Linked DNA regions of Homo sapiens: region 2 is linked to region 1. Evidence: fine-mapped expression QTL. A gene starts in region 1. The other region holds a variant in brackets. All regions are shown on one strand. Distances are between the middles of the regions.

Evidence for each region.
Region 2: its variant is fine-mapped to the expression of COLGALT2 in tibial nerve (GTEx, PIP above 0.99).

Annotation. Positions count from the first base shown.
Region 1 is chr1:184,034,441-184,039,817 of GRCh38, reverse strand. It overlaps COLGALT2 (collagen beta(1-O)galactosyltransferase 2), which reads left to right and starts at 2,090. Exons shown (of 12, transcript NM_015101.4): 1 at 2,090-2,723. The coding sequence starts at 2,461. RefSeq lists a silencer at 2,278-2,367.
Region 2 is chr1:183,965,237-183,970,613 of GRCh38, reverse strand. COLGALT2 (collagen beta(1-O)galactosyltransferase 2) reads left to right here. Exons shown (of 12, transcript NM_015101.4): 5 at 1,141-1,345. Among named protein-coding and RNA genes, the nearest start is that of COLGALT2, 70 kb to the left of the region's middle. The variant T/C (reference allele first, on the strand shown) is at 2,682.

The sequences.
Region 1 (5,377 bases):
TAAGGAGTGCGGATTTTAGTATTGAAAGATGAGTGGGACATAGTTCAAGAAAGGGAAACAAGAAAGACAGAACAACATGGAGATTGTCTGGACCTTTCTAACAGTCCCATCACTACCTCCCTTGTGGAAATGACCACATCTTCCTCTATCCCTTCACTGTAGCTGGTACATCTGTTACAGTACTTCTAACAGATGTTTAACTCTCAGTCTTCCCTACAAGACTGTGAGCCCCTTGAAAGTGGGAACAATTCCTGAAAATGGATGGAGGGGAAGGAAATGTCTGTAGGCCATTCGATAAAAAAATATGAAGATTAGAGAAGAGATTAGAGCAGAAGACATAGATTTTGAGGATATAACCACAGGAGACCATATGGAGTGGGAAGACTAGCACACTATAGGGAGGCACACAGTGAAGGGGCTTGGCTCAGAGACAAGTAGTATCAGAGGAGATCTAGGATGGGAGATTATGTAATCGAAGTCCAGGAAGGTGAGAACGGAAGAGTTTACTGAATCTGCCAATGCTGAGGCCATCTGTTGGTTTTGCAGAACAGTGGGGAGGGCTGACGCCTTACTGCACTGTGGTGGGAAAGATGGGAGATGAAGAAGTGGAGAATACAAGTATAGATCTCTCTTCCAAGGAGCTTGGTCAAGCAAAGGGATGACTAGAAGAAGACACAGGACTTTTTTTTAAAGCTTTTCTTTCTTTTTTTTTTAACGGATAAGAGAAGACTGACCAAGTATTTAGCTTGAGAGAAAGGAGTTGATAGAGATCAGTTGAAGATTCAGTAGAGAGTGGAATGATAGAGAAAAATCATGGGCTAGAAAGGGAGACCTCTCCCTTTCTAGTCTGTGATCAAAGACCCTGTCGTGAGGAGGCACCTGCAAGTAAGAAAGGTCTTGGTAGGGATGCTAGTTGGAGACAGTGGTGTTGGGGGAGCTGGATGAAGGAGGTGATATACTTCAAAAGACAGTAGGGAAGACTTCTAATAGTTGCTGAGAAGGATTGATAACAACTAATAAAAAGACTATGGGACAGACCTGAGGGTGAGTTGGGATTGGAGATCATGAATGTGCACTGGCACCAAAACACCCTCCATACTTATCTATCAAAGGCTACACAATATATCTTCAAAACTAAATATCCAGCCGAGCATGGTGGCTGATGCCTGTAATCGTAACACTTTGGGAGGCCGAGTTGGGCAGATCACTTGAGCCCAGGAGTTCCAGACCAGCCTGGGCAAAATGGTGAAAACCCGTCTCTACAAAAAAAAAAAAAAAAAAAAAAATTAGCTAGGCGTGGTGATGGACACCTGTGGTCCCAGCTACTCGGGAGGCTGAGGTGGGAGGATTGCTTGAGCCCAGGAGGTCGAGGCTGCAGTGAATTGTGATCGTGCCTCTGCACTCCAGCCCCGGCAACAGAGTGAGGCCCTGTCTCAAAAAAAAAAAAAAAAAAAAAGTAAATCTCCTTTAGCAGTGTATGCCAGCAGTTTCATTTTATGTGCTAATTGTGTTCTTCCTTCACCCCTTCTTTTCTTCCTTATCTCTTCTCTGCTCTCCAACATGCGCGAATTTTCCCTCTTTGTTACTCTATCATATTGGCTTATTACGGAAAAAGAAAACCAGCTAAGTGAATTTATTCTTTCACAGCCCTCCTGTGAGGAGGCTTACTGGGTTCACAGTAGAGTGAGGCTTCAGGACAGTGTCTCCCAAGGGCTTTCTTTTATTTTGCGGGGTCTGATCTGGCTCCAAAATTCTCCAAGTCTTCAAACTTTGTGTTATTAGGTGTCTACTCAGTCAAGAATGAATTTCAGAAGTTGAGTATATAAGAAAATGCGACATGCTGCCTTTGCGGTGGTTAAACAAGTGTTTGTCATAATCGTGAATAGTTGGGGAGACTTTTCATTTTAGAACTCTACTCAGTCAATAGGTGCATTATGAAAACTGGATACATTGCATCACTGTGAAGGGCTTCAGTCTGCGGTTTGCAAAAGCAGAATAAATTTTCTTGGGGTTGTACCGTTATGTACACACACACACACACACACACACACACACACACACACTCACAGGCTCATTGGCAGACAGGGCCACAACTCGCGGCTCTAGGGAAGGCCACAGACCTCAGCTGTACGAGCGGAACCTGGACTAGAGGAACTTTCCTCAGGACTCAGGGCACACAGCCCCTCGGCCACTACTGTCTGCGAGCCCGAGGCGCAGGGGAGCGCCAGCGGCTGCAGGTACGCTGCGCACCCGCACTGGGGCCTGGGCGGTGCAGCGGCGGCGGGAGGGTCCTGGGAACCGCAGCCGCCGAGGCCAGTGTGTGAGCCGGCCGGCCGCGGCAAGCCGCATCCCCCGGCCGCCCCTCGCAGCCCCTTGCTCCCCGGCAGCCGCCGCCGCCCTCAGGCAGCCCAGCCGGGCGCTCGCGCCAGGACTTCCCCGCCGCCCGCCTCGGCCCGGAACATGGCTGCGCGCCCTGCTGCCACCCTCGCCTGGTCGCTACTGCTCCTCTCCTCAGCCCTGCTCCGCGAAGGCTGCCGAGCGCGCTTCGTCGCCGAGCGGGACTCGGAGGACGACGGAGAGGAGCCGGTGGTTTTCCCGGAGTCGCCCCTGCAGAGCCCCACGGTGCTCGTGGCGGTCCTCGCCCGCAACGCGGCGCACACGCTGCCGCACTTCCTCGGCTGCCTGGAGCGGCTGGACTACCCCAAGAGCAGGATGGCCATCTGGTGAGCGCGCACGGGCCCCGGGCCGCCGCGGCGGGACGCGGGGGCGGCCTGCCCAGCGCGGACAGCGCCCGGAGCAGCAGCTGCAGGGCGAGGGAGCCGCTGGAGGGGCGGGGGGGCACGCGGAAAATCTGGCGCACACACCCCCTCGCTGCCCGCGCCGGTGGCTGGCGGATCGGGCGGTCAGGCTGCGGAGGGACGCGCGGGTCAGTGTGCGCAGAGGGTGCTGATGGGGAGAACCGGACCGCTGGAGCTCTGGAGGGTAGCCTGCGAATTGGGGCTTTGTCCCACAAGGGGCATGGGGGACACCCCTCAAGGGGACTTTCAGTTCCCTCGCTTTTAACTCTCGAGGTTTCCTCTTTCCCCACCTCATACTGCTAGCCCTGACGTGAGGGGATAGGGTGCCTGTCGCCGTATTCCCATGTAGATACGACAGATGGAACGTAACTGCGGTTGGCCAGGGGCTCCGCAGTGGCTGGGGCGCCGCAGTGCGCTGCTCTGACTTTCCGGTGCCGGGCTCCTGCTCCAGGCTGGAAATGTGCTCCTAGCTCTCCTAGGGGGACCTGGACCTAGGGGTGGAGATTGGGCGGAGCCCGCGGAGTGTGCCCAACCATGGCACCACCGTGGGCCTGGTCTCCTGCGAGCGCTCCGGGCTGTCCCTGCCGGTGCATCGGGGTTCCACGTCCCGGGGAGAGACGAAGATGCCCTGGGAAAGATAAACAGCCAAGTTTTGTCCCCGGAGGAAAGAAGCTTGGACCTGGTCCCTGTGTCTGCTGCGGGGAGGGCCAGGGGATAAGTGCGGGTGCCTGCCCGCCCCACCTTGTAGAACTTGGTCGTCTCGCACCTTTTATAAACGCGAGGATCCGAGGGCGAGAAGTTAGTTGGTGGCCAGGTTAGCCGCTGAGTGGGTTGTGGAGGACAAGGAGGTGGATGCTGGCCAGGGGAGATGTGCTGTCAGGTAGGTACTCGGACAAGAAGACTCTGGCCCCCTGAGGAAGACAGAGCCCAGGTCACTCTGGAGCAATTTCTGTCTTGTGTTGATAAAGGGAGCTGTTCTCAGGCGAGACACATCCTTAAAGCAGCGGTTGGGCAAAGAGAGGAAGAGGAGTAAAAGCAGCAGCTAGAATTGGCAGCCTCAGAGTACCTGGTGGGAGAGGTGCAAAGGTGCGAAAGCAAACATGTGATATAGTACAGCTCTGTGCTGTACACTGCTTTACTATATACCCTGCCATACGTGACCGCCTGGCGGAGAAGGGCATATTATGTGGAAAGAGAGCACTGGGACAGCCAGGCTTTAAACCAGAAGGAAGGATTTTTTTTTAACCACTTCGGTACCAAAAGAAATTCACACATATCAGTTACCTTAGTTGTTGTGTTTTTTTTAAGAGATATTTTAAAATATGGTTTTGATCTTTATGCATGATTTAGTTTTTTAAAACGTTACAGTATTTACCATAAGAAGTTGGTGAGTGGTGAAGCAGGTGTCAGGCACATGCTTTGCTACCTGATTTAGAGACATTACCTCTTTTTATCATACAGTAAACTTTTAAGAGGATGCTATGATGTTTATTTTGCAAAGAAAGAGACAGACTTGCATCAGTTCAGTAAGTCACTTAAAGTGACAGAATTAATAAATGGTGAAACTGGAATTTGAACCCAAGGCCACCCTAAAAAGGCAGGAAACATGATATAAACAAAATTTACATAAGCCTATAATCTACAAATTAGGAGACTTGAGTTGTTTATTACTAGTTTGATATGTGATTTGGGGCTGGTTGCTTGGGATCCATAGGCATCAGTTGCCTCATCAATAAAACGAGGGAGTTGGAATAAATGATTTCAAAAATTCTTTATGGCTCTTGAATTCCATAGATTTTGCAATATAATTAGGATCAACCAGCATCAATGTACATCCTAAGTTCCCTGTAAGTTCCAGATGGTATGGACACTGGTGTCTTACTTAGATGAGAGAATTCCAGTTCTGCATAGACCTTTGAAATCTGTTGTCTTTTATGTCCAGCATTGGCAGGTTAAGCAAGAAGTGCAAGGCCATGCTTGCGTCAGTCATTGAAGACTCTTCTTTGAAAAATTTTGGTTCTGTCTTTAAAACATTGTGTAATTCTTTAGGTAACAATAATACAAATCCCAGTTTCTAAATAGTTCTTTTCAGCTCACAAAGGAGCTGTAAAGAACCTTTGGAAATAACTTCCATGCACTGTTAACTCATTTGATTCTTACTGCCATTCTGTGAAGAAATAAAATTATCTCTATTTCCCAGAAGAAGAAATGTGTTTAAAGTGATTGACTTACTCAAAATTACATTTATTTATAAATTCCACACATAATAATAAGAGCTCGTGGTTCTTCTAAGAACTTCACATTCATTTTCTGGTTTAAGCTTCAAAATGACCCTATCAGATATGCACTGTTATTATACCACTTTACAGGTGAGAGAACTGAGGTACAGAGAGGCTGTACAAGCATATTCTTCTAATGCATTTTTTAAAATAAGAACCAGCCAGATCAGGGCTGAAAAAAAGTGTATTTAGATATGTGTGTTTTTTTACAGATAAATATGATTCATTTTACTGGGCAGTGTAAGGTGATCTGAATGGCTTTTAAAGGGTTTGGGGAAGAACCAAATGATTTATAAATCA
Region 2 (5,377 bases), 69 kb after region 1:
CATCTTCTGAGTCCTCATTTTTGATCCTCCTCCCTTATCATGGGGTCGGCATTAGGGTTAGCTCAGCTAGGACACTCTTCTAGAACCTGAAGGGAATGTCAGAGAAGTAGGTGAGGCTGTAGCACCTTATGTGTGGATGCTGAATTACAACAGGAAATGTAACCATGAAGTGATGCAACTGATTAATGAACACATAAGAACTTCCAGAGTATGGTGCCCTTCGGAGTGCTGGCTTTGCAAAACTTAACACTCATTCCAGTGAGCCTGCCATCACCTAGAACATTTTCCAAAATGCCTGGCAAAGCTTCCACAAGTATGTTTTGTAAGCATGTTTTGTTGAGATATATCTTCATCTTTTCTGGAAATGATTCAAGCTTTGGAATAAGGAAATTGGTTGTCCTGTGTGCTTGTGCAGAAGGACGTTTCAGAAGCTGAATCCCCAAAAACTATGGAGCAGCTGCAGCTTCACCAGAATATTGACTAAGTAACTGCATTGAAAGAAGACCCTCATTTGTATATCTAAGTAATGCATGTTTAATTACAAATATTAGCCACAGTGTAATGTCATTTTAATAGGAGCCGGTATTTGCTGATACATTCTTGGTGCTGGGCAGTAGTCTCAACACTATTCAGGTTCTACCTTACTTAAATTTTACAGCTAACCCCATGGAGTAGATAGTGCCGTCATCCCTGTTTTAGAGATGAGGAAATAAGCGCAGCAAGGTTGAGTCACTTGACCCATACCTACAGACAATAAGTAGCTGAGGTAGGATTTGAACTCAGGGAGTCTGACACTGGAACCTGTGCCCTTAACTGCTCTGCCACTTCTTAATACTCATGCTTCATATTTAATCATAAGTCAACATAAAATACACTTTTATGAAATTATTAAATCTAGAGATATGCTGAAATAAAAGTTACTTCTTATATCAAGACCCTTTTAGTATTATTTTATATGTAGACAGCATTTCTTGTGCTCACTTGGAAATTCATAGGCCATGATAAGAGGAGTGAAGGTGGCTTTGTTTGGGAGCTTGTATATAGCTGGTAATGACTTGAAAGGAATCAGTCTAGCAAATGACTGAGAAGGATGAAGACTTCAAATCAGAAAACACAACCCACCTATTTGCTCTTTTACAGGGCTTCTATAAGAGGACCCCAGACTACGTTCAGATTCGAGAATGGAAGAGGACAGGCTGCTTCCCCGTCCCCATGGTCCACTCCACCTTCCTAATTGACCTCAGGAAGGAGGCCTCGGACAAGCTGACTTTCTACCCCCCACACCAGGACTACACCTGGACCTTTGATGACATCATTGTCTTTGCCTTCTCCAGCAGGCAAGCAGGTACTGTTTGTCTTTGGTTGTAGTGCCACAATGGAGACACAGCAAAATGACCAGCTCCTTTGTTTTGTGCATTTTATTAAAAAAAAAAACCCTCATATGTCTGGTAGTGAGAGGCAGTAAATTGTCTGCAATAACCATACCAGCACCCTCTATGTTGCTGTCCCTGGGAGCACCAATGACCAAGAGCCAGGGCTGGCCTCTACCCAGGAACCCACTCTATTTTGAGTTGGAGGGACTGGTGGTGATATTGGGAATTATGGGAAGGTGATTGCTTCTCTGTGGTGCTACTGCATTGCAATTGTTTATTATAGAAGTTCATTTATTAATTAGGAAACTGTCACAGAGGCCTAAAACAACACTGGCAAAGACCCCAGACTTTAAAAATGGAAGTTTATTTCTTCTTGAAAAAGTCTGAGCTGCTGTAGTGGCTTTGTTCCACAAAGTGTTCAGAGTCCCAGGCTTCTTGTGTATTGCTTCTCACACTCCACGAGGTACTGCCCTTAATTGTGGAGTCCCAGGTGTCTCACCACCATGGATGCGTTTCAGCCAGCAAGGCAGAAACAACAGGGAGAACTCTCCCTGTCCCTTGAAGTGTGCAATCCAGAAGTTGAATGCAGTACTTCCATGCAAATCCTGTTAGCTAGAGCTTAGTCACAGGACAATACCTCACTGTAAGGGAGGCTCAGAATGTCGTCTTTATTCTCTGCATGCATGCACTGCAATTTTCACACTCTAGAAGAAGGAAAGAACAGATAAAGAGGCACCGAACAGTCTCAGCCTCAGTCCCTGTGGAAGGAGAGGCAAAGCGAGACTGAGGTCTTTTATGAACCACTGGGAAAGCATTTCTAGTGGGGCCTGGAGATTTTTGAGAAAGACAAGTCAACAGGAAGGAAAGTTATTTCTCTCATTTCACCCTACACTTGCTTCAGGAGGACAAAATTCACAAGAGCAGTTCAACAGCAAGACACATGGCATCTAACAGAGCAAAGCTTTGTTAGGATAATTCAGACTTTCCTGACAGAAGTTGGGTCCCATTATTAATGTGCCAGAAATGTGTCACTTAACCACTAGCAAAAATACGTTCATAAACCAAGAAGATGGTGAATAAACTCACTGTGGCCATATAACTGAGGGTGGAAAAGATGGTGCAAAGATCCTCCGGCAGCTGAGGAAGTGGCTGGCAGATGAGAATGTTAATACAAATTCAAGCTACAATTCACACATCAGACTCTCCTTAAAGCCATAGATGTCCCACTCATCAGTTGTAGATTTGCTGAGAATAAGAATATTTGGTAGAAATGGGTCAGGCTGATTTCCCCCTTGGCTGCTGGAGCAA[T/C]TTAGACCCTTTGGCCAGGTGTAGGCATTTTGTAGCCCTTATGTCTAGGCAAAAGCAATCCTCATATGATTGGAAGATTTTTGTAAAGATTCCTATGTCAGTGTTAATGGAAACTCCTTCTTTCAGTTGGTCTGTGATTTGCTCTGACTTCCCCAGGATGGGAAGCAAAGTCAGGGCTTTTTGAGTCCTTTGAGTGCCAATCCCTTTCCTTCAGAGGTTGAAGTTAGGATGTTCCAAGAAAGTGAGATATTAACAATTACACGAATGACACTGCCTAACAGAGTCCTCCTTTATAGTCACTGCACAAAGCATTATTATGATGCAATGAACTAAATTATTATGATACATTGTATGAAACCAATACCTGGATATTGGTATGGGAAAAATGATTCAGGTTAAGCAGGAATTTTTCAGCTCTGCCCTGTGCTTGGCCTGTTCACCAGGATTTTGTGTGTTATTGGTCAGACTTTGAAAAGGCTTTTTTAGAACATTGAAAGCAGGTAGACACCCAAAGTTGTTTGGTGACTCATTTGGGAAGAGGAGATAGAAAAGGAAAGAGAGAGGATGAACTCCCAAGTGTTTCCTTCTGTTCCTGGCACGGTGTTAGTTGGGAGTTAAGATTTTTACATGTGAAAACACAACTAATAGTCATGAAGCAGTGAAAGCTAAGGGCCAGACTGGCGGTGCAGACCATGAACAGGGCAGGAGTCAAGGCAGGAAAGATTCACTGTCATTTTGGGGAAATGAAAGGTCTTTCTTGACAACTGTGGATTTTAAGGTAATATTGTACTTATCTCTAAGTATTTTCAAGAGAAACATGAATGAGCCTGGGAGTCATGTGCAGCCCAGGGCATGTCTCCAGGCTCTTCCTTCCTTAGTTTCAAAGCAAAGCACTTTCCTCTTTCTTCATGAAATATGATTGGTATTCTTTTGTTCTCACTCTTCTGAAGCTCCCTAGCTGTGTATCATCTATGTCCCAGGCAGGACCATCCAACCACAAACCTTGGTCCTAAATCTTTCACCCCAGACTCTAGCCATTGCCCCATGTGGGTGATGAGTGAGGAGCAATCCAAGTGTGCTGGTGAGCAGGGCTTGGCCACCCTTCTAGCCCAAGAAGAGAGCACATATGGTCATAGGCGCGTCTCTGTTCCTGTAATGAGTCCAGGGTCAAGAGTTCACCTCCCATTGTGGCCAGTGATCTGGGTTCTGTATCATGGCCACAGGAATCATCCCAGTGCCAGCCAGTCGTCTTCCAAATGTCTGATGTGAGTCAAAAGAGGTGAGTGATATGGGCAATGGGCAGACAGATCCTGAACACCACTGGTAGTGATCAAATTTGTCCCCTTGTGGAGGGATGGCAATCCCCTAGTGACTAATGGTCTTGGAACTGAGCTTCCAATTACTGACTGGGTAGAAAGCACTTGGCATTGGCTCTTTAGGGACAAAGATTTGGCACTAATGACTTACTATGTGACCTTGGACAAGTGACAGCCTGAATCTGATTTTTCATCACCAAAGATAGGGATAATTACATCAATCTGCAATGTTAAGGTACTATATGAGTACAAGAAAATGTTTAATATGTTTAAAAGAAAAACAGTCCTTCAAAATGTAGCGTAATTCACTTCTCTTTTTCAAAAGAAAAATTGTCTTCCCCAGAAGCAGCATTCACTGGGAGTGCAGACTCTTTCATAGACTTTATCTAATTATTAATACATTTTCTTTTAAATTTTCTGTTATCAAACTGCCCATGCACATGGTTGAAAGTATTCATATAGTTCCCCATGGTTTATTAAGAAATGAACAGTCCCCTGCACATCACCCTGCATCACTTCTGTCCTCCAGAAGGCAACCACTTTTATCTCTAATATTTACTTCCATGTTAAATAATATGCATGCATTGCTACTTCTTGATTTTCTGGCTTCACCGTGGGCATTATTTGTTGACTCTCCACTATAGACTGTGAGGAGTTAGCTCTTTTTCTTCCTTTTTGCCCTCTGCATGCAAACACATTCTTCTCATCACCCTGTTCTCCCATTGTAATTTCAAACAGATTGATGGTCAGTGTTCTTGTTGTAATCATGCAAGCCTAACTCCAAGCTTGGTCATTCATAGGCTATGATTAGTTTTCCTTTGCCATTCTTTGGAGGCAATTCCTTTAATAATTGCCTTTTTTGCTTAGTTTTATTATTACTAGTATGATCCAAAACTAATCACTAATTACCTCAAACTCCTCTCAGAATGTCCAGATTTGTCAGATGTCCTTTTTTGCATATTTGCGAAGACGTCTGTTCTGGAGCTTTCTAATATATTCTAATCCAAGTGGTGCTGAAGCTATCAACCTAAGACTTATTTCTCTTCTCTTATACACTGACTCTCCTGTTCATGTTGTTTATAATCTTTCTTGTTGGTTATAATCGTCCTCCTCTTCTTCCTCCTCCTCCTCTTCCTTCCTTTCCTCCTCGTCCTTCTCTCACATCATCCAGCAGCTTTCTGAGAAAGTATGATGGCAAGTAAATATATTATGGTCTTGCATGTCTAAAAATGCCTTCCTTGTACCCTCACACTTGATGGATAATTTGGATAGGTATCATATCATTTTTTTATGGAAGCCTCAGAAAGTTAAATGGTAAAATGGTTTGCCTAATTAGGGTAGAGATGCAACTTTAATATATTTTTCCTTCCACTTCCTGAA